7 linked regions of the Homo sapiens genome follow. The protein of the gene in region 4 purifies or fractionates together with the protein of the main gene of each other region. This does not show direct contact. Each region holds a gene or a part of one and is shown on either strand. Other genes may lie near its edges. The genes, in order: PGM3, TRPM4, IMPA2, GLO1, AKR1B15, AKR1B1 and MROH9.

Region 1 (4,157 bases), about 44 Mb from region 4:
CTTGAGCCCGGGAGGCAGAGGTTGCAGTGAGCCAAGATTGCGCCACTGCACTCCAGCGTGGGCAACAGAGCGAGACTCCATCTCAAAACAAAACAACAACAACAACAAAAAAAACCCACTAAAGGCAGGCCCGCAGTTCATTCAGCATCCCCAAGGGAAAAAGACCCTCTCAGCCTCCTTCAGCTATGATACATCGTTTCCATGCATGCCAGATATGTATCATATTTTTTACTATTAAAATACTTGTGTGTGAATAAGTGTAAAAAAATGATTGATTGCTTATTGATTGATAGCATATAAATTCAGAGTTTTAGGAATGATGGTGATGCCAGACAACCACAGATTGTCCAACGGGTGGCTGACAGAGTGACACCTTTGCTTTCTGATGGTTCAGTAGACACAAACTTTGTTTCATGCACTAAATTTACAGTATTCTATAAAACCACCTTTAATCTTATGTAACATACATGAAACAAAAGAATTTAGTGTTTCCGACTTGAGTGCCATACCCAAGATGTCACATTATATATATGCAAATATCCCAAAATCCAGTGAATCTGGAACCCAAAACACTTCTAGTCCCATGCATTTTGGATAAGGGATACTCAGCCTATATCATGTGCTTTCTCACATGCAGCATGATTAAATGAAGTGTTTTTGTGGATGGATAAAATACGAACAATGAGGTGAAGATCTCTGTGGAAGACAATGAAAGGTATAACAAAGAATACTGAAACTAGCTCTTGAGAAACTTGCCTTTAGTACTCCTTATTTATAAAATGAAATTAGACTGGATAACTCTAAGGCTCAGCCTAACATTCCATCACTCATTTTTCTTTTTATAAATAGATCCCTTTTGAGATATTACCCCACAATGATTGATAGAAAGCATCAAGGTAAAATGGAGAAATATGAGCTTTGGTATAAGATATAACTGAAGATAAATCTCTGTTTCTTCACTTATAAAATGGAAATTACAGTAACACCTCTCCCTGTGTTACTGTAAGGATTACACAGCAAGGTATATAAAGTGTCCAGTGTGTGCAAGACACTCAAATAATTGAATCGCTTTCCTCTACCCTGAGTACTGCTTTTCCATAGCCAAACGACACTCCAACCCCAACTAACCCACATGTATGTCCTTTGTCAATGAGACAACCAGTTATTTGTGTTTGTTTTTGAGACAGAGTCTCGCTCTGTCACCCAGGCTGGAGTGCAGTGGCGTGATCTTGGCTCACTGCAAGCTCTGCCTCCCGGGTTCACACCATGCTCCTGCCTCAGCCTCCCGAGTAGCTGGGACTACAGGTGCCCGCCACCATGCCCGGCTAATTTTTTGTATTTTTAGTAGAGACGAGGTTTCACCCTGTTAGCCAGGAGGGTCTCGATCTCCTGACCTCGTGATCCGCCCTCCTTGGCCTCCCAAAGGGCTGGGATTACAGGCATGAGCCACCGTGCCTGGCCTGACAACCAGTTATTTTTACTTAATTTCATCGAGGTTTGGTTAAAAAAAAATTAATAATATATATGTATACACTGAGTAGCTGAATCTGTGATCCTAGGTAGAAGCTACCCAATATACTTGAAAATTTCCATCATAAGAGGTAGGGGAAGGGAAGCATATTAAAAAATGTTCTGTCATTCCATTTCATTATAAATCTCAACTGAATATACCACTATTAGAAGGAAGCCACCAGGCCAGGACGTCTCCACTTTAATTTTGTATGCACCCACACTCTGTTCTGTCCATCTTCTGAATAATGTAAAGGTAACCAAGAGTCCACTGCCCCATCAGTTCTGACCTGGTTAAACAAGTCAATAATGTTTTCAAGCATCTTAGCAGCTTTTCTTTTCTTATCTTCCAGTTGTTCTGCTGATTGTTTTATCTTCATTTCAACAGCTGTACTAAACAGTGCCTGCAGCAAAAGAATATAAAATCAGTCTCAAAACACTATCCAAAACCTAGTCATAAGTACTATTATTCTAGCTAACCCACTTTTCCCTCCTAGTCAATCTGGAGAAACTGAGGGGAAAAATAGTGGCAGCCTTAAAATGTATGAAATTAATGTAAGATCACATTAAAACCCAGAGGATAGTACTAGGGGAAAAATTTTATTTGCGGATTATATAACTGGTTATAAAAATTTAAACATCTGATTACAAAGAAAACACCACCTTGACAAGAGGCAAGCACACACAGTAAGTTCATGTTTTCCCTTTAACCAGCTAAATCATTTCTGTGCAACCAGGTTACTTAGAGCCTGTCTGTATCCTTTTTACTTTGAAGGATATAATTCATTGCAGCTAGTATAGTTTTATTCTAAAACTTAAGGGGATGAGCTAGGCAAAATTAAGAGTTCATAGTATTCATCAAAATATGGCAAATAATGTCATGGATAGTCATTACAATATATAATTCATCATGCTCCTCAAGAGTCTTATCTCATTTGGAAATACTCATCTTTTTTACTGCCTTCTAGAGGCCTAATACTGAGCAAGATTAGCATACTATGCTCAACTACTTGATGAAATACATTTTTCTTGATAAAATAAGGCACAGGCTAGTCACCTGTTTTTGTAAAGTTTTACTGGAACACAACCACACAGATTCATTTAAGCTAGATCAGCAGAGTTAAACAACTGTAAGAGACCTTATGGCCTGAAAATCCAAAAATATTTACTCTCTACCCTTTAGAAAATAATTTACCAACTTCTCCATTCGATCACTAAAGTTATATCTTAATTGCATTTTGTAGGAACTTATTTTTCCCCTTTTTATATTTATGCCCTCCAAAAGCCAATTTTAAATTAATGAGGAAAATTATTTGGCTTTGATTCAAATGTTCTGATAGCCACCTCAAGTGTATTCATTAAATGAGGTGAGTATAAAAACATTTTAAAAATATTCTGAACATTATGAATCTACAAAAAACTAAATTATACACTTTAAAATGTAATTTTATGTAAAATGTAAATTGAAACATTTTATGCCTATCACTAGTTACCTTAAATTCATTTTCATTTCTTATTAATTATCAACTTTCCAACACTTTGCAATTCACCATAGCGACTGAATTTTTCTTTTCCTCTCCTATGGCCAGCCGGAAAATGCATAGACAACATACTTATAAAAAAATTAAGAACTGTAAATTTTAAAAAACTATTCAAAACACCTTAGTATATCTCTTCACATTCAAAGAAGAATCATTACCATGTAAAAGAGAATCACAGTTTCATAATACATCAATATATAAGATAACCAAAGGATCTTTTTGTCACATCCAATTATTTCAACAAAGTACAATATTACCTATTATTACCTCCCAGATATAGAAGTCTCATCATAAAGAAAAGTGCCAGCTAAGGCCAACTATAATTAAGAGAACTTACAGTGCCATGCCCATTTGCTTCAAAATAAACTCCAATGTCAAACTCTTGAGCCTTGTGGTGCAAATGTTTTACACCAGTCTTAGTGCAATAGACAGGTACCTATAACACATGCATTTAAAGAAATACAGCAATTACTCAGATGTCAAATGTTTCTTGCATACCTAGTATCCCAGAGATACAAAGGGGAACAAAATACTGGGGCCGAGTCCAGTGAGGAAGACGATTAAGCATTAAAATACAAAATGGTACGTATACAATGGAAGCATGAACACACTCTGGAAGCACGCAGCCAAGGGTAAAGCACGGTGAGAGAGATGAGGGTCTCCTTATAAGACACGAAAGATTACAAGTGGGGGCGTGACATGACCTAACTGTTTTAGAAAGCTGTTTAGCTACAGTGTGGAGAATAGCTTAGAGCAGAATTGCAAGCTTTTTCTGTAACAGGCCAGACAGTAAATATTTTAGGCTTTGCAGGCCATATGGTCTCTGTCACAATTACTCTGCCATTACAGTGCAAAAGCAGCCACAGACCATACATAAACAAATCAACATAGCTCTATTCCAATAAAACTTTGTTTGCAAATAGCAGCAAGTTCAATTAGAAGGTTAAGAAATGGAATGAGGAGGCTTCTAGGACTAATCCCAGTAAGAAATAGTGGCTGGATCAGCAATAGTGAATAGGGAAAGTCATGGATGGATGGATCTGAGAGAGCTTTAAGAATGGTTAAGGAAAGATTGATAGTAGAAAAACTGCAAAAGAAAGATCAGCA
Region 2 (4,157 bases), on a different chromosome or scaffold from region 4:
CCCTCTCTCTCTGGGTCTCTGTCCCCGTCTCTCTGGGTCTCTGTCCCCGTCTCTCTGGGTCTCTGTCCCCGTCTCTCTGGGTCTCTGTCCCCCTCCCTGTGTGCCCCGCTCCCATGTGTCCACAGTTCCTCCGGCTCTCTGACCGAACGGATCCAGCTGCAGTTTATAGTCTGGTCACACGCACATGGGGCTTCCGTGCCCCGAACCTGGTGGTGTCAGTGCTGGGGGGATCGGGGGGCCCCGTCCTCCAGACCTGGCTGCAGGACCTGCTGCGTCGTGGGCTGGTGCGGGCTGCCCAGAGCACAGGTGACCGAGGGTGGGTGGGGGCTGTCTCCTGGGCCTCGGCCTGCCTGCCATCTCCCCCACGACTGTGGGTGGCCTCCCCCGCCGCCCAGTGTGTGTGTGTGTCTCTGTCTTATTCTTTGTTTCTCTCCCCCTGCCTCTGCATGTTCCTCGGCGTCTGTGTAGGAGCCTGGATTGTCACTGGGGGTCTGCACACGGGCATCGGCCGGCATGTTGGTGTGGCTGTACGGGACCATCAGATGGCCAGCACTGGGGGCACCAAGGTGGTGGCCATGGGTGTGGCCCCCTGGGGTGTGGTCCGGAATAGAGACACCCTCATCAACCCCAAGGTGTGACCCAGGGACTTGGAAAAGGGGGCTGGAGGCCTGGACTCCTGGGTCTGAGGGAGGAGGAGGGGCTCGTGTTTGTCCTTCTGGCCCCGATGAGGAGACGCCCTGGTCTGGCCATTTTTCCCCTAGGGCTCGTTCCCTGCGAGGTACCGGTGGCGCGGTGACCCGGAGGACGGGGTCCAGTTTCCCCTGGACTACAACTACTCGGCCTTCTTCCTGGTGGACGACGGCACACACGGCTGCCTGGGGGGCGAGAACCGCTTCCGCTTGCGCCTGGAGTCCTACATCTCACAGCAGAAGACGGGCGTGGGAGGTGAGTGGTCGAACCCATGACCCACAACCCACGACCCACAACCTGCAACCCCAGCGCTCAGGATCCCAGTAGTTTGGTCTGGTCGAGATTTGGGGAATTACCTATGGTTAAGTGTCTTTCCCCGTCATTATTCATGGTTTTAAAAACTTCTGTCTGAGAGTGAGTTAGCTCACATCAGTAATCCCAACACTTTGGGAGGCCGAGGTAGGAGGATTGCTTGAGGCCAGTAATTCAAGACCAGCCTGGGTAACAGAGCAAGACCTTGTCTCTACCAATAATAATAATAATAATAATAATAAAGAATAAAAAATAAATTAGCCAGGTGTGGTGTCGTGTGCCTGTAATCCCAGCTACTTGGGAGGCTAAGGTGAGAGAACTGCTTGAACCCGGGAGGTGGAGGTTGCAGTGAGCCGAGATCAAGCCACTGCACTCCAGCCTGGGCGACAAAGCAATACTCCATCTCAAACAAACAAACAGACTTTATTTTGAAATTTCTCATACATACAGAAAAATGCACGAAGGTGGACAGCTTGATGCATTTTTTTCTTTTTTTGAGACGGAGTTTTGCCCTGTTGCCCAGGCTGGAGTGCAGTGGCGCGATCTCGGCTCACTGCAGCCTCTGCCTCCTGGGTTCAAGCAATTCTCCTGCCTCAGCCTCCTGCCTCAGACTCCTGAGTAGCTGGGATTACAGGCACGTGCCATCACACCCGGCTAATTTTTGTATTTTTAGTAGACGGGGTTTCACCGTGTTAGCCAGGATGGTCTTGATCTCCTGACCTTGTGATCTGCCTGCTTTGGCCTCCCGAAGTGCTGGGATTACAGGTGTGAGCCACCGCGCCCGGCCTAATGTTTGTATTTTTAGTAGAGATGAGGTTTCACCTTGTTGGCTAGGCTGTTTTCGAACTTCTGACCTCAAGTGATTCGCCCACCTCAGCCTCCCAAAGTGCTAGGATTACAGACGTGAGCCACTGCACCTGGCTCCGGCTAATTTTTAAAGTTTTTTGTAGAGACAGGGTTTTGCCATGCAGCCCAGGTGGCCTCAAACTCGTGGTCGAAAGTGGTCCACCTGCCTCAGCCTCCCAAAGTGCTGGGATTACGGTCGTGAGCCACTGCGCCCAGCCAGCCAATATCTTATAATTTTATCAAAACATGAACAAGATACATTACTAGGTTTGAGGAAAGTTTTTGATTTTTGTGTATTTTTCTTGTATCAATCCTCTTACCAAATTTTCTTATTGATCTTTATTTTTATTTTTGGTGGGGTTTTCCAATTTTCTGGGAATACAAGCCATGTTTTCTTCAAATAGGTACTTTTGTCCCTTCCAGCTTTACAAAAAACCAAAAACCAAAAAATCAATTTTCACTTCAGTGATTTCATTTTTTTGCATTATTGAGTTAGCTCAAAACTCCAGGATGAATACAGTGTTAGTGGTAATGTGGTCTAGTTTCTAATTTATTTATTTATTTTTTTGAGAGGGAGTCCTGCTCTGTGCACAGGCTGGAGTGCAGTGGCGTGATCTCAGCTCACTGCAACTTCTGCCTCCTAGGTTCAAGCGTTTTTCCTGCCTCAGCCTCCCGAGTAGCTGGGACTATAGGCACGAGCCACCACTCCCAGCTAATTTTTGTATTTTTGGTAGAGACGGGGTTTCACCATGTTGGCCAGGCTGGTCTTGAACTCTTGACCTCAGGTGATCCACCCGCCTCGGCCTCCCAAAGTGCTGGGATTACAGGCATGAGCCACCGCACCTGGCCTAGTTTCTAATTTTAATGGAAGTAGAGTCGATATAGTGCTATCTTTATGGTGCAATTGGATTTTGGTAAATATCTATATTGTGGTTAGATAGCCCTTTCTATTCCCATTTCCTTTACTTTCTATTTGAACTTTCACTCCCTCTGGCTCCTGGATGGTTAATCAATGACAGGATTGACTCATACAAGAAACACCTGCCTCATTCAGGGACTCAGGAGTCTAGGTCCTCAGCCCCCTCCTCCCTGGGGAAGTTAAGCATTACTGTCTTCAAAATCTAGCTCCCTCCTGAAGTGTCCAAAGACATGACAATTCTGGCCAGGCGCGCTGGCTCACAGCTGTAATCCCAGCACTTTGGGAGGCCAAGGTGGGAGGATCCCTTGAGTCCAGGAATTCGAGACCAGCCTGGGCAAGATGGCAAGACCCCTGTCTCTACCAAAAATTAAAAAGTTAGCTGGGCACGGTGGTGTGTGCCTGTGGTCCCAGCTACTTAGAAGGCTAAAGTAGGAGGATCAAGATGTAGTGAGGTGTGATCATGCCCCTGCACTCTATCCTGGGCGATAGAGTGACACCCTGTTTCAGAAATTAGGCTGATGCGGTGGCTCATGCCTATAATCCCAGCACTTTGGGAGTCCAAGTTGGGAGGATTGCTTGAGGCCAGGAGTTCGAGACCACCCTGGCCAACATAGCAAGACCCCCATTTCTAAAATAAATACATAATTAAGTAAAAAAAGAAATGACAATTCCAATGAGCCTCTGAACAGAAGATTAGGACAAGGCTGATGTTTGCCGACTCCTGGGAAATGCGGTTTTCTCCTATCTCCAGCAAAGGCTGATGGGAGGTAATCAAGCCCCCTTCTCTTCTTGCCTCAGGGACTGGAATTGACATCCCTGTCCTGCTCCTCCTGATTGATGGTGATGAGAAGATGTTGACGGTATAGGGGCCCGGATGCCCGGATCTAAGGGGGAAGGAGGGTTGGGGGCCAGGACTCCTGGGTCCTGAGTCTTAGGGAGGGTCTGGGGGTCTGACTCCGGGTAGGGTGAATATCCTGCCTTTTCTGACGTGATGAATAAAGAATGCCTTTATCCTGTAGCGAATAGAGAACGCCACCCAGGCTCAGCTCCCATGTCTCCTCGTGGCTGGCTCAGGGGGAGCTGCGGACTGCCTGGCGGAGACCCTGGAAGACACTCTGGCCCCAGGGAGTGGGGGAGCCAGGCAAGGCGAAGCCCGAGATCGAATCAGGCGTTTCTTTCCCAAAGGGGACCTTGAGGTCCTGCAGGCCCAGGTATGACACTGGGGGCCCAACTCTGGATCCTGAGATGGGAGGGAACTGGGGACTTGGGCTCCTGGGTCTGAGGGAGGAGGGGCTGGGGGCCTGGACTTCCAGGTTCCGGGAGAAGAGGGTGCTGGGCATATAGACTATTAGGTCCTGGAGGGGAATGGCCTCCTCCATCCCTTTGGACA
Region 3 (4,157 bases), on a different chromosome or scaffold from region 4:
GCCAGGCTGATCTAGAACTCCTGACCTCAAGTGGTCCACCCGCCTTGGCCTCCCAAAGTGCTGGGATTACAGGCACGAGCCACTGCGCCTGGCCTCATTCAACTCTTGAGCAAACTGGATAATGTCCAGTTTGAAGTTAATACGGGTAACGTTGCTGTGAACTTTCTTGCACATGTCTTTTGATTATGTGTGCATTTCTGTTGGGGATTTATTAATAGTAGGAGTAGAATCGCTGTGTCATTGGGAATGTAAATTCTGCCAAGTAGTTCTCTAAAGAGGATGTACCAAGTTACACTCCACCCTGCAGTGTGTGAGGGTTCCCTTTTCCCCACGTCTTCCACAACATGTGGTATGGTCTGTCTTTTATATTGTAGCCATTCTGATGGGCTTGAGTTGGTATTTTATTGTAGTTTTAATTTGCGTTTCTTAGATAATTAATGAAGTTAAATGCACATGTTTATTGGCTTTTTTTTTTTTTTTTTTTTTTGAGACACAGTCTTGCTCTGTCGCCCAGGCTGGAGTGCAGTGGTGCGATCTCAGCTCACTGCAACCTCCGCTTCCCGGGCTCAAGCAATTCTCCTGCCTCAGCCTCCCGAGTAGCTGGGATTACAGGCATGTGCCACCACGCCTGGCTAATTTTTGTATTTTTAGTAGAGATGGGGTTTCACCATGTTGGCCAGGCCAGTCTCAAACTCCTGACCTCATGTGATCCACCCACCTTGGCCTCCCAAAGTGCTGGGATTACAGGCGTGAGCCACTGTGCCCAGCTGTTTATTGGCTTCTTTGATATTATTTGCTTTTAAAATGATGGTAATAACACATTGATTATAAATTTATTCATCCAACAAAGAATCATTAACAACTCAGGAAAGGACTTTAGCCTTTTTACTCTGAATGTGAGGGGAGGTTTGGGGCAGAGTCTTGTGTGGGGCTTTATAGGACTCTATATAGGGGACCACCCTGGCTGCTGCATGAGGTCCTTTGTGGGACACTAGGGAGACCAGAATCAGGTATCTGATAGGAAGCCACGTGAGAAATGAGGGTGGATTTGACTGGGGTGCATGAAGAAGGTGGTGAAGAAGATTTACTTTGGAGGCTGAGATGACAGCCTCTGAGTTGGATGTGGGGTGTGAGAGAAAGAGAGGAGCCAAGGGTGACTTCAGGGGTTTAGGCCTGAAAAGCTGGTTGAATGGATTTGCCACTTTCCGAGATGGCAAAACTGCAGGAGGAACAGGTTTGGAGCTGAGAGTCGAGTGTTCTCTTCTGTGCAGGTTAAGCTCGAATTGCCAGTAGATTTCTTATTTTATTTTTTTGAGACAGGGTATCGCTTTGTTTCCCTGGCTGGAGTGCAGTGGTGCAATCACAGCTTCTACCTCCTGGGCTCAAGTGATTCTCCCACCTCAGCCTCCTGAGTAGCTGGGACTACAGGCATGTGTCACCATGCCTGGATAATATGTATTTTTTAATTTTTTGTACAGACGGGGTTTCACTAAGTGGAGATGTTGGATTTGCACCCAAGCTGACGGCAGAGATGCAGTGTGGAAGTCATATTCCTGGAGATGGTATTTAGGGCCATGTCCCGGACAGGAGGAGAGCAGGCTTGGCCACTGATGGGCTTTGCCGTCGGATGAGCTCAGGTCAGGCTCCCATTTTCCTCCTTGGGAGCCTCACAAATGCCAGTTTGTGGAGGTCATTTCTGAAGTGGTTCATTTCTCCAGAAAAGGCTTCCCTGCTCTTCCTGCCTGGGCTGAGCGCACCTGTCGCTGGAGGAAGAGGAGGCAGGAGGGGGAGAGGAGGCGGTGGTGATGGCCTCCAGCTCCTGCCTCGCCTGGTCCACACCTGCAGTGTTTGCTTAGCTCTGCAGGGTGGGGTCAGCCTACGTGAGAAATTCGAAAACTCAACAACATTTCAAACATCAGCAGAGACAGAATTCCTGTGAGACAGCAGCTGGCAGGCACAGAGTAGCAGCTGTCCCTTTGGTGGGGTGGGGGTCGGTACATGGTCTCCAAGGGTCCGAGGCCCACTGCTCCTGACCCTATCTGAGAGGTCCCTATCATTTCCTACCCATTTTGCTAACAAAAGCTGTCTCAGAAGAAGGGGGAGGGCAGAAGGCACTGCCCTTGCCTCTGGGCAGCCTCATCCCAGCCCTTGGCACTCCAGGGTGCCAGTGAGGTCCCACCTGTGCCCCCTTAAGGAGAGGCTGGTAGATGGCTCATCCCCACGGGGAGAGTGAGTCCTGGACTCTGTGGCCCTGAGCTTGTCACTTGCTCACCCCAATGAAGCGCTGCCCAGGGGAGATTACTGTCTTTGGAGTTTGGGGCAGGAGGGTGGGTGAAATCACTCAGCCAGAGGATGGAGAGGCTGCTAGTGAGATACAGGCCCCCTCCTCGAGCTTTAGGGGTGGAGGAAGGCAGGAGCTCAAAGGCATGGGGAGCTGAGACATTGAGAAGGAGAGGGGAGTTCCGGAGTCTAGGCCCCTCCCTCTCTCCTGGCCTCCTCCTGGGCCCAGTGGAGACAGGAGCCTGGAGCCTGGTTTGCGTCTTCTCTCTTCTGTGGGAGTGAGGGAAGGCTTTGGTCTCTAGGCTGAGCCAGTCTCAGGATCCTGTGTCCGTTGTCCCAGCTCTGCCCTAGCCTGCCATGAGCGCTGCAGGAGGCCTTCTGCAGGCTGGCGCCCTGCCCCTGGGCTCACCTTTCATGTGAGAGATGGAGGAGGTGCAGACCTGGCCAGTCACTGCAGTGTGCAGGCGGACTGGGAGGCCATCCCAGCACCTGGGATGTGGACAGCTTCCTGGAAGAAGTCACAGCTGAGTGTGTCTTTAGAAAAAAAGCAGGAGTCAGCTAGGAAGGTTAGGTGATGGGCTTGGGGAGGGGAGAGAGAAGAGGAGGGGTCGGGGCCAATAGAGAAGATGAAAGCAGAAGGGGCAAAAGAGAACATAGCACCAAGGACCTCCAAGAAATGCACTTTGGCTAAAGTTTGAGGTGGGAGAGGTCAGGACTTGGGGGCCCCGTGTGGAGGGCAGAATTGCAGGTGGGTGTCCTGCTCGAACTGATGGGGTGTGGCCCTTGGGGGCTGTGAGTTGGGGTGGACTTGATGAGTCGTACATTGAAGGAGACATAGGAATAAAGGACTTCTGGGTTTCTGGCTCATGCAGCTGGCTGGCTCTCATTGCTTTTGAGAGAAATGTGAGCTGGAGAGGGATTAGGAAGTAATCAATTGTGACGGCTCCAGCCGTGGGGTCGGCTCTGTTTAGCGATGGTGGACTTGGACTGTGGTGCTGGGAACCCCTTCCCTATACCTTACAGCTGCAGGGCCTTGGGCAACTTTCTCCATTTCTTTTTGCCTCCGTTTCCTCATCTTTAACGTGGAGAATAATTTTTGCTGTCCTCAGAGTTACTGTGTGGAATAAATGTACATGTGAACTGCTCAGAACAGCACGGGGCAGAAGAAGCGCTCTGTAAGCTTGAGCTCAGGCCGTGGAGCTGGGCAGGGTGTGAGGTGGAGGCCATCTCCAGGAAGCTCAGCTGCTGAAGGCAGGTCCGAGGGCTTGCAAACACCCACTTTCAAGGAATAGTGGGAGGGAGATGAGCCGCAGAATGGTGGGGAGATAGGAGGAAAGCCACGAGGGGAGGCAGGGGCCACAGGCCACGGGCCCTGGAACACAGGGAATGCAGCTGGGATGTGGGTGACGGGTGGCTGCTGGCATTGGTATGGAAGGTGCCAGTGCCTTGTCAGGGCGGAGGGCGACTAGAGATCAAGGTGAGGGGAAAAATAGCCACGAGACTAAAGGAGGCGTTGAGGATTCGAGAGCCTGAGGTGGGCTGGCCTGGGAGCCACGTCTGCTTGGACCAGCTCCTCCTCTTCCTCCCAGGGTTGAGGTTGTACAGAGATTTGTGACGCATCAACAGCTGTGAACTGCTGACCACATGTGCCACATGACACCATGTGATAGGCGTGTTATTACCTGGGTACCCGATGAACTGTTAGGTTTTATTGATTGTCACACGTATCAGGTTCTTCAGAGAAACAGGACCGGCAGGAGGTGGGTGGGTCCAGTCTGCAGGGTGGGCTGGCAGCTGGAGACGCGGAGAGACAGCTGATGTTCCAGTTTGAAGGCCATAGGGCAGGAAGAGTTGTTCATGTGGACAGAGTCCCAAGG
Region 4 (4,157 bases):
CAGAAAAGTTATAGATAATAAGAACTTACTACTCAGAAAACCAATGGGTTTACTTAAAACTGACCATCTGTTCTATTTTTCTAGGCTGTGTTTTCTTTTGCTCAACAGGTCATATCCACTGATCTTGCAATCCTAAAGCATACTTATTTTTCTAAAGCATGTTTATTTTTCTTTTTTTCTCCAGCTTTACTGAGGTATATTGAGAAATAATTTTGTCATATTGTTGATTTGTTTCCCTAAGTTATGTGAGCATTTTGCTTTTGAGCATATAGATACATGAATAATAAAATAATCTTTAAATTTAGTGCCTAGATAACTTCCATTCACATTGAGAGAAAAATTTAAGTAATATATGTCTATATTTAGAAAATTTGACCAGTTCAGAAAAATACAAAATGAAAAGTAATAGCTTCCCTCCCCAAGTTCTTCTCCCCAGAGATAACTGCTGTCCAGTTTCTTGTGATTTTTTTCTAGAAAAAGGTATTATGAATATATTTATGACATATTTAAAGGACAAAATGAAAACAGATTTATTGAACACTTTTGCCAGGCACTTCAAATGTTATTTTGTTCAGTCTTCACACCAGTCTTAGGAGGTAGCTTTTATCCCCATTTCACAGACGGAGAAACCAAAGCTTAATGAGATGAAGTTACTAGCTCCAAATCCCACAGTTGGCATATGGCAGGGCTGGAACCTGTATCCATTGTCTGATGGGCTCTAATGTAGACTTCCTGTGCAGAGCCCCCAAATAGGGTACAAGTTGACAGTAAGCTGGAAGATTTGAACAGCTGAGAAAAGCAAGTTGCAACAGTTTCATTTCCTTCAGTCCCAACTGATTGGTCCATGAGGGTTGTGTAGTCTGCTTTAGTAGGTGCAGAGATTGTTTTTCATGATTGGAGTATTTGAGGTGTTTGATACTTTATTATAAACATGTTAGAGTAAATCTTATTTGTGATAAGTCAATGCAAGGATCTAAGTGGGCCAAGGTCTATTATATAGCAGTGATAATGAAATAAAAGATTGGAAGCAGAACTCTAGAAACTTTCCATTTGCTATATGGCAATAACAGCCATTTGCTCTTATTGATTATGAACAAAGTCATCTTTGAATAATCTAAAGAAAATCATATATGCATTCTCATGCCACCTTACTCCTTGCCAAATAATCCTATACCATTTAAAGTCATTTAAGGTTCAGGACTTCAGTTATCTTTCTTAAAACCTCAGGATTCATAATTCATTCACTCTCTCTCCCATCAGTCTCTTCTACTGTCTCTTTCCCCTCAGAGAAGCGTAAGTCTTCTTTGTTCCAGAATATTTCTTGCCCTCTGCTCCTTCGCCTACCTCCCCATTGTCACTGCCATGCTTGCTACTGTTTTACCTGCTCACCTGCCATTCTCTCTCCCCAGTACAGTGTAATCCAGCTGATGCTTCCCCACTCTGCTGACATTGCTCTCATGGGACCTTTCCATATCTCATGACCTTTTCTTAGTCTTAATACTGTTTGACCTTTCTACAGTATCTGATACTGTTAGCCACCTTACTGTTGACATTCACGTCTTCTGTGATACTAGTCTGTCCTTCCTCCTTCTTTCTTACCACCTATCCTTAATTTCCTTTCCTAGATGTTTTGGCATAGTAAGAACTCAATAAATGTGTTTATTTAACTGAATGACATATTTATATATGTGTTTGTATGTGTGTATATATATGAAATAGCAACAAGGTTCTTTATATTTTTCAGTACAAATAAACACAGTTCTCTTTTGGAGATAGCCGTTTCTATTTATTAACAAGTACCATAATTTCAGCTAAATGTTACTATATTTACAGAATTGATGAATTACAGAAGTTTTCATTTTTGTATTTCAAATATTTACAGATGCATTTTTCATGATATTTTTTCACTGATTTTTCCTCCTGCTTATTCCATTAAAATAGGCTTACTACATATAGCTCTTCTTTTTAGTAAAACTTGAATATTAAGTTATGTTGATTATAGTATGAATTAGCCTTTCCTGTTGTTAATGATTCAGGCTTGTTGTTTTTTCATTGCAGGCTAATCCAAAAATGTGATTTTCCCATTATGAAGTTTTCACTCTACTTCTTGGCTTATGAGGATAAAAATGACATCCCTAAAGAAAAAGATGAAAAAATAGCCTGGGCGCTCTCCAGAAAAGCTACACTTGAGCTGACACAGTGAGTATGAGTTTCTATATTTATATATATTATAGATTTTTTAAGGTAGTTTTTAAAAATCTTTTTTGTTTTGTTTACTGACCAGTATAATTCAAACCAGATCTGCCTATGACTTCACATTTTTAATAATATATTGAAGTGTTTTTCATGCATCTTTTGATCTTTGTATTGTTCTTGGGCAAATGAGATGTGTTTTTTTTAGAGACAGGCTCTCTGAAGCCTCTAACTTCTAGGTAGTCTTCCTGCCTCAGCCTCCTGAGCACCTTGGACTACACATGTGTGCCACCACACCCAGCTAGTTTTTGTTTGTTTGTTTTTGGTAGAGGCATAGAGGCAAGGTCTCACTATGTTGCCCAGGCTGGTCTCAAACTCCTGGCCTCAAGTGATCCGCCCGCCTCGGCCTCCCAGACTGCTGGGATTATAAGCATGAGCCACCACGCCTGGCCCATTTGTCTTTTATTTTTATTTATTTATTTATTTATTTTTTGAGACAGAGTCTTGCTCTGTTGCCCAGGCTGGAGTGCAGTGGCGCGATCTCGGCTCACTGCAAGCTCTGCCTCCCGGATTCACTCCATTCTCCTGCCTCAGCCTCCCAAGTAGCTGGGACTACAGGCGCCCGCCACTACGCCCAGCTAATTTTTTGTATTTTTTGTAGAGACGGGGTTTCACCATGTTAGCCAGGATGGTCTCGATCTCCTGACCTCGTGATCTGTCTGCCTCGGCCGCCCAAAGTGCTGGGATTACAGGCGTGACCCACCACGCCCGGCCTCCATTTGTCTTTTAGATAAGAGAATATAAGACCCTGAAATTGTAAGATATTTGCCTGTTTGTCTCTAACTAATTTTTAGGTACTATAATTAGTCTTTCAGCATCCAAAATTTTGTTCTTTTATTATTTTGCTACATTTTGGATCCAGAAATGTGATATCATGTGTTCCTTTAAAAATTCTTCAAACCATTTTGTAATAATTAACATTCAAATTTGGTATTTTTATAACTTGAGCACTTAAAAATGTAGGCAATTTCTTTACATTGTTTATCTGCATACTTTAAAAGAGATTGATTTCAGAGTGTGTGATTTCGTGTGTCCCTTGATTCAAAATAAAGCTTTGGAATCAGGCAGGCTTAGATATGAGTCTGTGACTCTAAACAAGTAAGTGGCAGTTTCATCAATAGAATGGAGATGTTCACACCTAGCCCATGGAGCTGTTTTAAGGGTTTAAATGAAATATAAAGTACTTAGCACAATAAATGAGCATTATTATTATTCTTATTATTGTTCTTGTCCAGTACCTGTATTTACTGTCTCTTTAGTCTCGTTAAAATCATACTTTGGCCATTTGTCCTTTCTATAGTTGAAAACTTAATATTTTTGTAGCAGGGGTTAGGCCAATTATGTAAAGTAGCATATAAACGTGGTAAGATTTCAAAGATGTTACTTGCTTTTCAGAATATCTATTCCCTAGGACATTGTAGCTATGTTTTCCTTCCTTTTGTAGCAATTGGGGCACTGAAGATGATGAGACCCAGAGTTACCACAATGGCAATTCAGACCCTCGAGGATTCGGTAAGTTTGCCTGTTTTTATGTGATATATGTAGATTTGTGTGATTTTGTATTATGTATATAATTATGATTTTAATAAACCTAAAACATTAATGTCCTAATTAAGTATGATCAATTTATTAGAGATATGATTATTTTTATTTTCCACAAATAATCTTATTTAGGAGTTGTTTAATTTCAGAGTCTCGATCTAAAATTACACTTACCATCTCACCATGATTTACTTTTAAGTCTCAGAATTAATTTCCAGTAGACTTTTTTTTTTAAAAAAGCTGTAGTTAATACTAATCCCAGTTTCTGCTAGCACATACACTTCTGCCTTGATCTCCAGTCTCTCAATCAAGATGACAGTATTGCAGGCTTCAGCTGGCTGCTATAGTCAATGCCAACCACA
Region 5 (4,157 bases), on a different chromosome or scaffold from region 4:
CTTATTTGTCCCTACCCACTTCCTGTTGATTGGTCCATTTTACAGAGTGCTGATTGGTCCATTTTACAGAGTGCTGATTGGTCTATTTTACAGAGTGCTGATTGGTCCATTTTACAGAGCGCTGATTGGTCCATTATACGGAGCACTGATTGGTCCATTTTACAGAGTGCTGATTAGTCCATTTTACAAACCTCTAGCTAGCCACAGAGCACTGATTGGTGCATTTTACAATCCTAGCTACAGAGTGCTGATTGGTGCATCTTACAATCCTCTTGTAAGATAGAAAATTTCTCCGAGTCCCCACCCAACCCAGAAGTCCAGCTGGCTACACCTCTCACCACCACACCTACCTAATTTCTGTATTTTTAGTAGAGAGGGAGTATCACCATGTTGGCCAGGCTTCTTTCTTAATCTTTTCTTTTCTTTCTTTCCTTCCTTCCTTTCTTCCTTCCTTCCTTTCTCTTTCTTTCTTTCTTTCTTTCTTTCTTTCTTTCTTTCTTTCTTTCTTTCTTTCTTTCCTTCTTTCTTCCTTCCTTCTTTCCTTCCTTCCTTGCTCCCTTCCTTCCTTTACTCTCTTTCTGTCTTTTTCTGTCTGTTTTCTCTATTCCTTACTCTTCCCTCATTCCTTCCCTCCCTCCCCCAACTCTTCTTTCCTTCCTTTCTCTCTCCCTCCCTACTTTCCAACTTTGGGCTGTGTTGAATTTGTTGACTCATCGTGAACAAACAGAAACTCCAATGATACTGTTACCCAAGAGAACTTTGCAAAAGGTTGTCATGTTTAATAATTCATTCACAGAATCCTCAATCTCACAAAAGCCTGGAATGGATTTTCTGTTTGGACAGGGCAGGGAAGCTACTGTGGCCAGGCTCCAGCTCTTCCCACTGCAGCTAGCACAAGCCTTCTAAAGCAGGATGTGGCCAGGCACAGCTCATGCCTGTAATCCCAGCACTTTGGCAGGCCGAGGTGGGTGGATCACCTGAGGTCAGGAGTTTGAAACCAGTCTGTCTCTACTAAAAATACAAAAGTTAGATGGGAGTGATGGTGGGTGCCTGTAATCGCAGCTATTCAGGATGCTGAGGCAGGAGAATTGCTTGAACCTGGGAGACAGAGGTTGCAGTGAGCCAAGATCACACCACTGCACTCCAGCCTGGGCATCAGAGCAAGACTCCGTCTCAAAAACAAACAAACAAAAAGCAGTGAGAGGTGAAGCCACCTGGACTTCCTGGGTTGAGTGGAGACTTGGAGAACTTTTCTCTTTAGCTAGCAGATTGTAAAGTCACCAATCAGTGCTCTGTGTCTGGCTAAAGGATTGTTAATGCACCAATCAGCACTCTGTAAAAATGTACCAATCTTTCATCCCATCTCATCCCATCTTTCAGTCACTTCACAAATGGTTCCTAGTAGATACAAAACAGTTTTTTCTCCAATGGGAAAACAGAAAACAGCCACTCAGTTTGCTCCCAACACCCGTTTCTAGCCGCTTACCACAGCTACCTTGGCAAGTACTCTAGGAGTATGGGAAAATGAAAACGACAAACTCACACACCTTTTTAACATACACAACCAGTTCTGACTACCTAGCCAAGGCAGATTCTTCTTCTGTGGAATGTCAACCTATATCTGCCTCCCGACCAACTGGACAGGCACCTGCAACCTTAGTCTTCCTATGTCCCAACATTAACATTGCCCCAGGAAATCAGACCCTATCAGTGCCCCTCAAAACTCAAGTCCGTCAGCACAGAGCCATACAGCTAATACCCCTGCTTATAGGGTTAGGAATGGCTACTGCTATGGGAACCGGAATAGCCAGTTTATCTACTTCATTATCCTACTATCACACACTCTCAAAGGATTTCTCAGACAGTTTGCAAGAAATAACAAAATCTATCCTTACTCTACAGTTCTAAATAGACTCTTTGACAGCAGTGACTCTCCAAAACCACTGAGGCCTAGGCCTCCTCACTGCTGAGAAAGGAGGGCTCTGCATCTTTTTAGGGGAAGAGTATTGTTTTTACACTAACCAGTCAGGGATAATACGAGATGCTGCCCGGCGTTTACAGGAAAAGGCTTCTGAAATCAGGCAATGCCTTTCTAATTCTTACACCAACCTCTGGAGTTGGGCGACATGGCTTCTCCCCTTTCTAGGTCCCATGAAAGCCATCTTGCTATTACTCACCTTTGGGCCCTGTATTTTTAACCTCCTTGTCAAATTTGTTTCCTCTAGGATCGAGGCCATCAAGCTACAGATGGTCTTACAAATGGAACCCCAAGTGAACTCAACTAACAACTTCCACCAAGGACCCCTGGACCAACCCGTTGGCCCTTTGACTGGCCTAAAGAGTTCCCTTCTGAAGGACACTACAAGTGCAGGGCCCCTTCTTCGCCCCTATCCAGCAGTAAGTGGCTAGAGAGGTCATCACCCAATTCCCAACAGCAGTTGTGGTGTCCTGTTTAGATGGGGGATTGAGAGGTGAAGCCAGCTGGACTTCCTGGGTCAAGTGGGGACTTGGAGAACTTTTCTGTCTAGCTAGAGGATTGTAAATGCACCAATCAGTGCTCTGTGTCTAGCTAAAGGATTGTAAATGCACCAATCAGCACTCTGTAAAAACGCAGCAATCAGCACTCTGTAACTAGCTAAAGGGTTGTAAATGCACCAATCAGCACTCTGTAAAATGGAACAATCTGCAGGATGTGGGCAAATAATGGAATAAAAGCTGGCCACCCCAGTCAGCAGCAGCAGGGAACCGCTCAGATACCCTTCCACACCGTGGAAACTTTGTTCTTACCCTCTTGACGAAAAATCTTGCTGCTGCTCACTCTTTGGGTCCACACCACCTTTAAGAGCTACAACGATCACCACGACAGTCTGCGGCTTCATTCTTGAAGTCAGCGACACCACAAACCCACCAGAAGGGAGAAACTCCAGACACATCTGAAGGAACAAACTCCAGACACAACATCTTTAACAGCTGTAACACACACTGTGAAGGTCCACGGCTTCATTCTTGAAGCCAGCGAGACCACGAACCCTCTGGAAGGAACCAACTCTGGACACAGCAGGACGTGAGACTTCTACCTGCTCACTCAGAATCATTTCCGCACCAACCATGGCCACGTTTGTGGAGCTCAGTACAAAAGCCAAGATGCCCATTGTGGGCCTGGGCACTTGGAGGGTAAATATGCAAATCTTTGCACAACTTTCTTCTCTGGAGGGCTGTTTGGGTGTTTTCTCTTTCTACATTCAGCCAGAAAAGCCTGGAGGTCGGGTAGGGGTTTGGAGAGGTGAATTTCAGTCCTGGAGCTGGGACTCGGGTTGCTTTCTTTTCTCAAAGCTGATTCAAGCTGCAATGCTGCAAGACTGGCTTTCCCAGCAGTGATGAGAACTCCTCTAGCAAGTATCAAATTTCAAGCAGAGTTGGACTTAAAATTGTTTTCCAGGGCAGTTTCTCTCTCTGGCTCTAGGACACTTAATTGGGCACAAGGTTTCCCCAGAGTCTTGGCTGTGGGTTTGTTGTGGGCTGGGTGGTTGTGGAGAGGATGCAGAGCCAGAAGTCCCTGGCACCACTTTGCAGATCACCATGTGGGACTTGGGCTAGCAGCATCCCTATGACCTGGGAGCTTGTTAGACATGCAGAACTGGCTGGGTGTGGTGGCTCATGCCTGTAATCCCAGCACTTTGGGAGATCCAGACGAGAGGACTGCTTAAGCCCAGGAGTTGGAGACCAGACTGGGCAACATAGCAAGACCCAATTTCTACAAATAATCAATAAATTAGCTGTGCATGGTGGCATGCAGCTGTAGTCCCAGCCACTTGGGAGGCTGAGGTGGAGATTGAGTGTTGAGCCTGAGAGGTCAAGGCTGCAGTGAGCAGTGATTGTGCCACTGCACTCCAGTCTGGGCAACAGAGTGAGATCCCGTGTAAGAGAAAGAAAGAAAGAGAAAAAATGCAGAGTCTCAGGCTTCACCCAGGCTACCTAACGGGCATCTGCACTTTAACAAGTTCCCTAGGTGGTTCCTGTACACATTGAAATCTGCAACATGCTGGGACTGCAGAGAGCCTGGGCTGGGAGTCGTGAGCTCCACCCGGCTGTTTTTATGACAGCTGGCAAAACACGCTAAGGCACATTGAGGACTCAGTGAGGCAGGTTCCTGGGCC
Region 6 (4,157 bases), on a different chromosome or scaffold from region 4:
GTCCTCCAGTCAAATAAGAGGTCGCCAGGTCCTCTGAGGGTCGTCCCCTCTTAACCCACACCTTCGATGAGCATCCCCACCCTGCCTCGCTGCTCCCTCTGAGGTGGAGAGTGAGCTCCATGCTAACAGGCTCTGGTAACGGGCTTGTTCAACTGGGCCCCTTTCTTCCCCAAAGCCTGTTGAAAATAGCTGATGTCAAAACACAGATGTCTGCAGCTGCTATGGCCCTGGGGGGTTTTTCTTTTCATTTGTTTCTACCCCAGCTCTCCAAAGGAATGTGCTCTGTTCATTCAACAGCCCGCTGCACATGTTTATTGCTCAGCTCTGTGATCATAGCAGGATAGTGAAAGTTGGGGGATACGTGTCCATGCAGCCTACCTGGGTGCCAGTGAAGCGCGATGCCATGTAGGCACTTCCTCCTCCTCTTCAGTAGCCAGGCTCCCCACAGCTGTTCTGGTTACTCAGATGGTCAGGTGGCTTGGCCATGGACACCCATTCAGTCATTTTGCCAGGTCAGCCACTAACCATTTGGTGATCTTCCATGATCCACATTCCCCCTCGTTTCCCTTTAACTTATTTCTCTCTGCTGATACCTCTGAGGGGCCATCTCCCGTGTCTCCACCCCTTGAAGCAGATCCTCATACAGTGAGAATTGACACATGGGCCTTTGAATAAACATCAGTGATGTGCTTAACTTCATGATAATCTCCCAGAACCGCTTGAAAACAAGCGACTGCCGGTATCAGAAGCCATGCATGAAAAGAGAGCGTAAGGGGCAGGCATTCACTGGCTGAACTGGGGAGCCACATGGGAATTGGGGTCCATAGGACATCTATTTTTGAAATATTTTGAGATATTTGAAGGAAATGGTTTCCCTTACTATCTCAGCATTCAGAGTGTGGGGAAATGTTTTTAATACAGTGGTTTGCAAATCAGTGGATGTGAAGAAGCAAGAAAATGAGATGGCTTCAGCATATCTTTTAAAAGTGATCTCACCTACACTTAAGTGGCTGTCAGATTCTCCTACAGGGCAATGCTGTGTGGCCTTTCACTTCCATCCCCCGCGTCTGAGGCTGATAGTCCAGAATGCTGCTGAGGAAGTGCACGTGGTCTGTCTTTGCTGAACAAAGTGGCAGGCTGGTCAGCAGGTATCGGTGGCTGCCACTGCCCCTCCTCCTTGCTGTGCAGACTCTGCATTCTGCGGGGCTCACGTTCTTTCTCCTTTCAGTCCCCTCCAGGGCAGGTGACTGAGGCCGTGAAGGTGGCCATTGACGTCGGGTACCGCCACATCGACTGTGCCCATGTGTACCAGAATGAGAATGAGGTGGGGGTGGCCATTCAGGAGAAGCTCAGGGAGCAGGTGGTGAAGCGTGAGGAGCTCTTCATCGTCAGCAAGGTATCGTTCCGCGGTGGGGCTGGAAGGGGCTCTCGGTCCCATCATCTGTTGGTGCATCAGCCCAAAGCCAAGTCCACACTCAATACAGCTACACTTTTCACTGATGGGCGATTCTTCCCGGGGAAACGTATCACCCACGGCCATACAGGGCTCCAGAGCTCGCCCATCCTTGGCTCTCTGTTGAATGGTCATTCCATCTGGGCCCATTGCTTAGAGTCCCGTGCTGATGAGGCTGAGGTTGTGGATTGGCCCTCCCTTTCCAGGGAGTCGCTTTCAAGGATGGAACTTGGTTCCCATCTGCAAACTGAATCTCCAGTGCTAGCCACTGTCTTTGACCTGAGATACTGATGCACAAAGGACATGAGGCAGGAGGATGGGGCTGGCTCCACAAACACCAGCCCGGGGGGAAAGTTTCGAGAGTTCTTGCTTAGGCCTAGGGCAGGCTAGCCAATCTGTCCATTCCATTTTGTGTCCTCTGGTCCTTGTAAGAGGTCTCTGTGACCTGGTCATCCTGCCTGCCTTTGGAAAGTTAGGATCCAGTACGCAGTGGAAATGCCCTCACAACCATTCACAGCATCATGGTAAAGCAAATGGGTTTTGGGGAGAGGAGACTGCTCTGTCTTTCCAGCCAGGAAGCTGCCTTGTGGCTGGCAATGATGACATGTGCCCTCTCGCTGGCTTAGCTGTGGTGCACGTACCATGAGAAGGGCCTGGTGAAAGGAGCCTGCCAGAAGACACTCAGCGACCTGAAGCTGGACTACCTGGACCTCTACCTTATTCACTGGCCGACTGGCTTTAAGGTATGGGATGCCTGGTGCAGACCAGGTCCCTTGGGGCTCAGGTGCAACCTGTGGTGTGTTTTGAGCTCCCTTAGCAGATTACGTGTGGGTGACTTTCTGTTCTTGCTGCTCAAGGTATAGCCAGTGGACCATCAGCACTGGCATCACCTGGGAGCGTCTTAGAAATCACAGTCTCGGGCCCCACGCAGGCCATTTGAATCCGCACCAGCAGTGACTCATACGCACACTTCTTCAAAGTTTGAGGAGCACTGCTCTTTGCCAGTTGGTAGATGTGCAATTTAAAACTGTCAGCAAACACAGCTGCTGTCTGTAGTGCACACAGCCATGAGGCACGGTCAGCCCTGGCCCTCCCCTCCAGGCACGTGCACACACCAACCCCCATACACATGAGTCCCTACCCACGTTCTACATGCATACCCTGTCCTGTGGAGGCCCGGTAACTATTTGCAGTCTAGTTGTTGGCACAAGAAGAACTTGAGAGTTACTTTGTCTTTTGCCTTTTTTCTAGCCACTGCCTCAGTTTTCTGCTGTGAGCCAGGTTCAAAGTGTGGGTTTAGCTTTATCCCGTAGCCCTGTTTTATTGCACCACAGCATATCAGGGCTGAAGGGACTTGACTTTTATCTTTTGATTTTAGGGGTAAGCTGGGGAGGCTGGGCCAGGTGGTAGTTTTATAGGCCAGTGACCCGCCAGGCCTTGGGCCCTGTGAGTCCTGGTCTTGAGTCCTTCCTGTATCCACACATTGCAGTCAGTGGCGGGGCTAGTCTCTGTGACCAAGTAGTGTCCATGTCTCCGTCTGACAGTCTCAGCTCCAGCCCGTTTGATAAAGAAGTGTTGGCTATCTGCCTATTTCCTTTTCATAGTGGCACACAGATTATCCCTAGCCAGCTGTGGTGGTTTAGAATTGTTTTAGATGCCAGCTTCCCCCAGCAGGTCTGTGAAGGACTATTACTGATTGTTTTGTTTGTTTGTTTTTTATTGTAATGACAGCCTGGGAAGGAATTTTTCCCATTGGATGAGTCGGGCAATGTGGTTCCCAGTGACACCAACATTCTGGACACGTGGGCGGTAAGACAGCCCCTGGTTGGACCTTGTTTTCGTGACTGGTTCCCTCTTCTTCTTAGAAGCAATCTGCCTGCCATTTCTCACATTGCATTTTGTTATTCTGTCCCTGTTGTTTGCTCTCTCTTTTTTTTTTTTTGAGTTGGGGTCTCCCTCTGTTGCCCAGGCTGGAGTGCAGTGGCACAATCTCGGCTCACTGCAAGCTCCACCTCCTGGGTTCACGCCATTCTCCTGCCTCAGCCTCCTGAGTAGCTGGGACTACAGGTGCCCGCCACCACGCCCGGCTAATTTTTTTGTATTTTTAGTAGAGACGGGGTTTCACCGTGTTAGCCAGGATGGTCTTGATCTCCTGACCTCGTGATCCGCCCGCCTCAGCCTCCCAAAGTGCTGGGATTACAGGCGTGAGCCACCGCGCCCGGCCTGTTTGCTCTTCTTATCTCATTAAAGCCAGCCTGGCTTTCGTCTCACTGTCTCTTAGCTTCTGAAAGGTCTAATTCACTGGCACTGAAGAGTGAGGGCAGGACCCGTTAAACTGGTGCAAACGACACTTCTGATCCTGTCCTTTCTGGGTTCGTTTCTGCACCACACAGACACTTTTCTCTGTAGGCCATGGAAGAGCTGGTGGATGAAGGGCTGGTGAAAGCTATTGGCATCTCCAACTTCAACCATCTCCAGGTGGAGATGATCTTAAACAAACCTGGCTTGAAGTATAAGCCTGCAGTTAACCAGGTAAACATCCCCCAACGACACTGGCATTGCAACGTTGCTGTTTTACTGTCTGATGCTGGTAGGGATTTCTCGTCCACCTCACCCAGCAAGTGGCCAGGAGGCAGCTCCTGGGTGTTGGCAGAGTCCTGAGTTATGATTCAGCATGACACAGCACATCTGGGAGAGGAAACTT
Region 7 (4,157 bases), on a different chromosome or scaffold from region 4:
ACTTCATGCTGTATAACTCCAGATGGATGGTATATATAAGCATAAAAGGTAAAATAGTAAAGCTTCCAGAAGTAAATATAGGAGAATATCTTTATGGCTTAAGACAAGCAAACATTTCCTGAACAGGACCTCAAAATTAACTGACCATAAATGTAAAGATGATGAGTTCAACTACATTGAAATTAGGGGTTTGTGTTAATTAAAAAACAAATGCAAATGGAAAAATTTAGCCATGAGATAAGAGAAGATATTGTAAGATATGCACCATTTTAAACAGATTAGTACTTAGAACTTTAAAACGTCTACAAGTAACTAAGAAAAAGATAACTCAATATATACACCGGCAAGAGACTTATCTGAATAAGCATTTCACAAAAGAAGACATCCAAATGGCCAGTAAATACACACATGATCTTATTAATTAACAACAAAAAATGAAAATTAAAATTACAATGTGATATTATCACCAAACCCATGAGGATGACTGAAAGGAAACATTTTAACAGTATCAATTGTTCGGAGGACATAGAGCAATGAAAATGTTAGCGTACTGTTTGTGGGAGTGAAAATTGGTACAGCCACTTTGGATAACTGTTTAGCAGTAACCGCTGAAGTGGAACATAAGCATACCCGGTAAATCCACTAGTTATATACCAAACAGCAGTTATACAAATACCTGCCAAAATTCATGTACAAGAATTCCCATAACTTCATCATTCATAATAGCTCCAAACTGGAAACAACACAAACGCCCATCAACAGCAGAATGGATTTAAAAAATGATGCATTCGTAAGATGTACTTGTATATAGCAGGTTCAGCAAACTCTTTCTGTTAAAGGCCCAATAGTAAATATTTTAGACTTTGAGTACCATATAGTCTCTGTTGCAACTCTGCTGTGGTATGATGAAAACAACCATAGATATGTAAACAAATGAGCCAATGTGAATGGCTGTATCTCAAGAAAACTTTATTTGCTAGCCTCTGCCATGTAGCAATGGAAATGAACAAACTATTGCTACATGAAAGAACATGGTTGAATCTTAAAAGGTAATATGAAGCAAAGGAAAGCAGACACAAAAGAATATATTCTGAAAGGTGGAGGAGGAGACTGGGAGAGCCTTGAAGGAAGCTTCTAGGATGCTGCTAAAACTCTATTTAATAACCTAAATGGTAGCCCTGGTGTGTTCCTTTTGTGGTCATTCACTGAGCTGTCCAATATGATTCATGCACATTTATACTCTCATATATCTTTCAATAAACAATTTTATGAGACAATAATTAAAAGTACTAAAAGATGACTCAAGGATAATATAGAGATGCTTTGCTTTGAAAAAAGCAAAGAAGGTAGCCAGATAACATCAGAAAATGTATTTTCATAATGCATGTTGCAGTAACTTTAATTTTTATTATGTGCATAGGATATTTGGCAAAATCAGGTGGTCATTTACTGCTTAGAGATGAAATCGAAGTCATGCTTGATGGTGAGTATTGAGGTTATAACAAAATCTTTATGCATAAATCTAAATACATTTACTATTTTTAATTCTAGTCACATATGAGTTCTGTTAGAGTGCCAGGCCAGACAGGAAGAGGGTGGTGGTAGTAGTAGTTGGATAATTACGGAAGAATCAATGAAAGGACTGGGTTAAGAGGTTTGTTTTTTCTCTTTCTATTCTATTTCCCCTTACTCTCTTTCCCTGTTTCAGTCTCTCCATGTATTCCACTAATTGTCTGAGAACTATCATCCTAGAGCCCTTGGGAACTTCAGAAAGTTGAAAACTCATTTACTCATTCATCTAACAAATATTTTTTAGCATCTCTTATGTTTACGTGACAGCACTATTTACTGCTAGGGACAGAGTTGCAAATAAAGCAGTCTCTTCCCTCAGAGAATTCACATTTTAGTGGATAGCAATGTACAATACATTTGCAGAGGAGGGAATTAAAGAAGGGTAATATTAGTCTATCAAAATGTTTGGGTCTTAGGAATCTCCCTTAGCCTCTGTCTATCGTCCCATCAGGGTAAGAATTACAAATAGTGAGTTATAAAAACAAGTTGGCTGCCTTCCTTCCTTTTTCTTTCTTAATAGACTATTTTTTAGAGCAGTTTCAGGTTCACAGCAATATTGAGCTGCAGGTACAGGGACTTCCCAAGTACCTTCTCTCCTCACCTATGCATAGCCTCCCCCATTATCGACATCCCCCACCAGAGTAGTACATTTATTATAATTCATGGACCTACATTTATACATCATTACCTTCCTTCCTTATTCACTCATCCATTCATTCATTCACTCACTCATTCATTCATTCAACACATATTTGACTACCTGCTAAATGTCAAACACTAGAATTTTCCATCTTTCTTTCTTACAGTCATTTTCTTCTTTCATTCCCCCCATCCTGCTCTTCTCATCTCTGTTTTCTAAATCTCCCCCTTTGTTTCTATTTCTTTTATCGAGAAATAAAATAGTAATTTCTCACAGTCCACTATCTGGATATAATGATATTAACATTTTGGTATATGTATTATCCCGGATTTTTTTTTTTTTTTTTTTGAGACGGAGTCTCCCTCTGTCACCCAGCTGGAGTGCAGTGGTGTGATCTCAGCTCACTGCAACCTCTGCCTCCTGGGTTCCAGTGATTCTCCTGCCTCAGCCTTCTGAGTAAGTGGGACGACAGGCACATGCCACCATGCCCGGCTAATTTTTTGTATTTTTAGTAGAGATGAGGTTTCACCGTGTTAGCCAGGATGGTCTCGATCTCCTGACCCCGAGATCCACCTGCCTCGGTCTCCCGAAGTGCTGGGATTATAGGCATGAGCCACCGTGCCTGGCCTATCCAGGATATTTCTAAAGAATGAAAGCTATTATATATTTTTTTAAACTATCATAACTGCTTTTTAACTTTTTCACTTACCTTTATAATATAAACATCTTTCTAAGCCAAGAAATATGGGCCTACATTATGTTAATATGTATGTAGCATTTCATTTTATGTTCCTAATTTTTAAGCAGTTCCCTGTTAATGAACATTGAGACTGATTTTAACTTTTTCATTATTATGACCAATATGAACCTCTTCCTAAATATATGAATACATGTTTATGTTATCTAGCAGAATGCTCAGCACATAAAAGGTCCTTGGTAATTTTTAGTGAATATTCCCATTTTTCTTTTAATGGGGTCTATGTGGGGTTTTAGTAGGGATAGATGATAAAACTTCCTGAATGCTATCAGCCAAAGTTACAAAATGCAGAGGGAATGCAGAGGAGAGATGGAGAGAAGGGGGCACTCTGTGAAAGGTGGCAGGGCTGTTTAGTATTAAAGCTTCATGGCCTCTAAGAAAGAGATAACTTGAACTAAAGTCTCTTCTGATATTACAGTTATTGAACGACTGCTCCGAGATGAAGACCCTATGATCAAACAGTTGGCTGAAATAACCTATGATATTTTTAAGAAAAAAGCCCATAAACTGACCTCTGCACCTCTTAAACAAAACTTCCAAAAATTGCTTAAATTATTCTACATCAAAAAATTGAAGCCTCTTTACAATTATAACTCACCCAATGGCCAGATAGACAGTCCTACAGACAGTAAAGATGTCAAGAATGATAAGGCCTTATAGAAGAGAATGATGATGACATTCATCATTCATAAACAATGGGAAGTCCAACAATGTCTTGGAGCTGACCTTAGAAGAAGAATGATTTTTCTTTCCCTCCTGACAACTTGAGTCTGTTTGTAGATGCTTTTCTGAAAAATTCTGGAAGCTTTTACTGTTACTTCTTAATTCTCTATTCAAATATAGAAATCTGAGAGAACTAGTGCCTCTGTATGTCTGACAGTGATCAGAAGCCCTATTTCATCAAAACCACTAAGACAATTGAAAATAACATAAGCAAAGTGTTTGATGAGAAGCTCTGGGAACTTGATTCAGTCCGGAAGCTCTACTGAGCACCTTCTAAGTGCCAGATACTGTGTTAGGCAGTGGGGACATTTGGATGATATAGACAAGGTTCCTGATCTCAGGATGGGCACAGTCTAGTGACACATAGTGTGGTCATTTCTATCATGCTGGGAGAAAGACTGCCTAGGGCAGTGTTAACAAAAAAGATATGGAACTTGAAGAAGGGAAAGGGGAGAAGGAAATGTG

What was found.
Region 1: the proteins of GLO1 (region 4) and PGM3 fractionate together in Homo sapiens (co-fractionation; one large-scale study listed by BioGRID). This does not show direct contact.
Region 2: the proteins of GLO1 (region 4) and TRPM4 purify together in Homo sapiens (affinity purification with mass spectrometry; one large-scale study listed by BioGRID and IntAct). This does not show direct contact.
Region 3: the proteins of GLO1 (region 4) and IMPA2 fractionate together in Homo sapiens (co-fractionation; one large-scale study listed by BioGRID). This does not show direct contact.
Region 5: the proteins of GLO1 (region 4) and AKR1B15 fractionate together in Homo sapiens (co-fractionation; one large-scale study listed by BioGRID). This does not show direct contact.
Region 6: the proteins of GLO1 (region 4) and AKR1B1 fractionate together in Homo sapiens (co-fractionation; one large-scale study listed by BioGRID). This does not show direct contact.
Region 7: the proteins of GLO1 (region 4) and MROH9 purify together in Homo sapiens (affinity purification with mass spectrometry; one large-scale study listed by BioGRID and IntAct). This does not show direct contact.

The regions. Positions count from the first base shown.
Region 1 is NC_000006.12:83,172,575-83,176,731, forward strand, and holds part of PGM3 (phosphoacetylglucosamine mutase), read right to left. Parts: intron 3,487-4,157; coding exon 3,388-3,486; intron 1,914-3,387; coding exon 1,800-1,913; intron 1-1,799. UniProt on the Homo sapiens protein: Catalyzes the conversion of GlcNAc-6-P into GlcNAc-1-P during the synthesis of uridine diphosphate/UDP-GlcNAc, a sugar nucleotide critical to multiple glycosylation pathways including protein N- and O-glycosylation.
Region 2 is NC_000019.10:49,167,792-49,171,948, forward strand, and holds part of TRPM4 (transient receptor potential cation channel subfamily M member 4), read left to right. Parts: coding exon of another isoform or gene 1-125; coding exon 126-306; intron 307-468; coding exon 469-632; intron 633-761; coding exon 762-945; intron 946-3,565; coding exon 3,566-3,627; intron 3,628-3,786; coding exon 3,787-3,978; intron 3,979-4,157. UniProt on the Homo sapiens protein: Calcium-activated selective cation channel that mediates membrane depolarization. While it is activated by increase in intracellular Ca(2+), it is impermeable to it.
Region 3 is NC_000018.10:11,987,537-11,991,693, forward strand, and holds part of IMPA2 (inositol monophosphatase 2), read left to right. Parts: intron 1-4,157. UniProt on the Homo sapiens protein: Phosphatase that can use myo-inositol monophosphates, myo-inositol 1,4-diphosphate, scyllo-inositol-1,4-diphosphate, glucose-1-phosphate, beta-glycerophosphate and 2'-AMP as substrates in vitro.
Region 4 is NC_000006.12:38,682,416-38,686,572, reverse strand, and holds part of GLO1 (lactoylglutathione lyase), read left to right. Parts: intron 1-2,058; coding exon 2,059-2,199; intron 2,200-3,697; coding exon 3,698-3,765; intron 3,766-4,157. UniProt on the Homo sapiens protein: Catalyzes the conversion of hemimercaptal, formed from methylglyoxal and glutathione, to S-lactoylglutathione. Involved in the regulation of TNF-induced transcriptional activity of NF-kappa-B. Required for normal osteoclastogenesis.
Region 5 is NC_000007.14:134,562,373-134,566,529, forward strand, and holds part of AKR1B15 (aldo-keto reductase family 1 member B15), read left to right. Parts: intron 1-2,225; 5' UTR 2,226-2,247; coding exon 2,248-2,397; exon of another isoform or gene 2,398-3,108; coding exon of another isoform or gene 3,109-3,174; intron 3,175-4,157.
Region 6 is NC_000007.14:134,448,825-134,452,981, reverse strand, and holds part of AKR1B1 (aldo-keto reductase family 1 member B1), read left to right. Parts: intron 1-1,228; coding exon 1,229-1,396; intron 1,397-2,079; coding exon 2,080-2,196; intron 2,197-3,184; coding exon 3,185-3,262; intron 3,263-3,862; coding exon 3,863-3,985; intron 3,986-4,157. UniProt on the Homo sapiens protein: Catalyzes the NADPH-dependent reduction of a wide variety of carbonyl-containing compounds to their corresponding alcohols.
Region 7 is NC_000001.11:171,060,712-171,064,868, forward strand, and holds the end of MROH9 (maestro heat-like repeat-containing protein family member 9), read left to right. Parts: intron 1-1,420; coding exon 1,421-1,483; intron 1,484-3,387; coding exon 3,388-3,629; 3' UTR 3,630-4,054; downstream 4,055-4,157.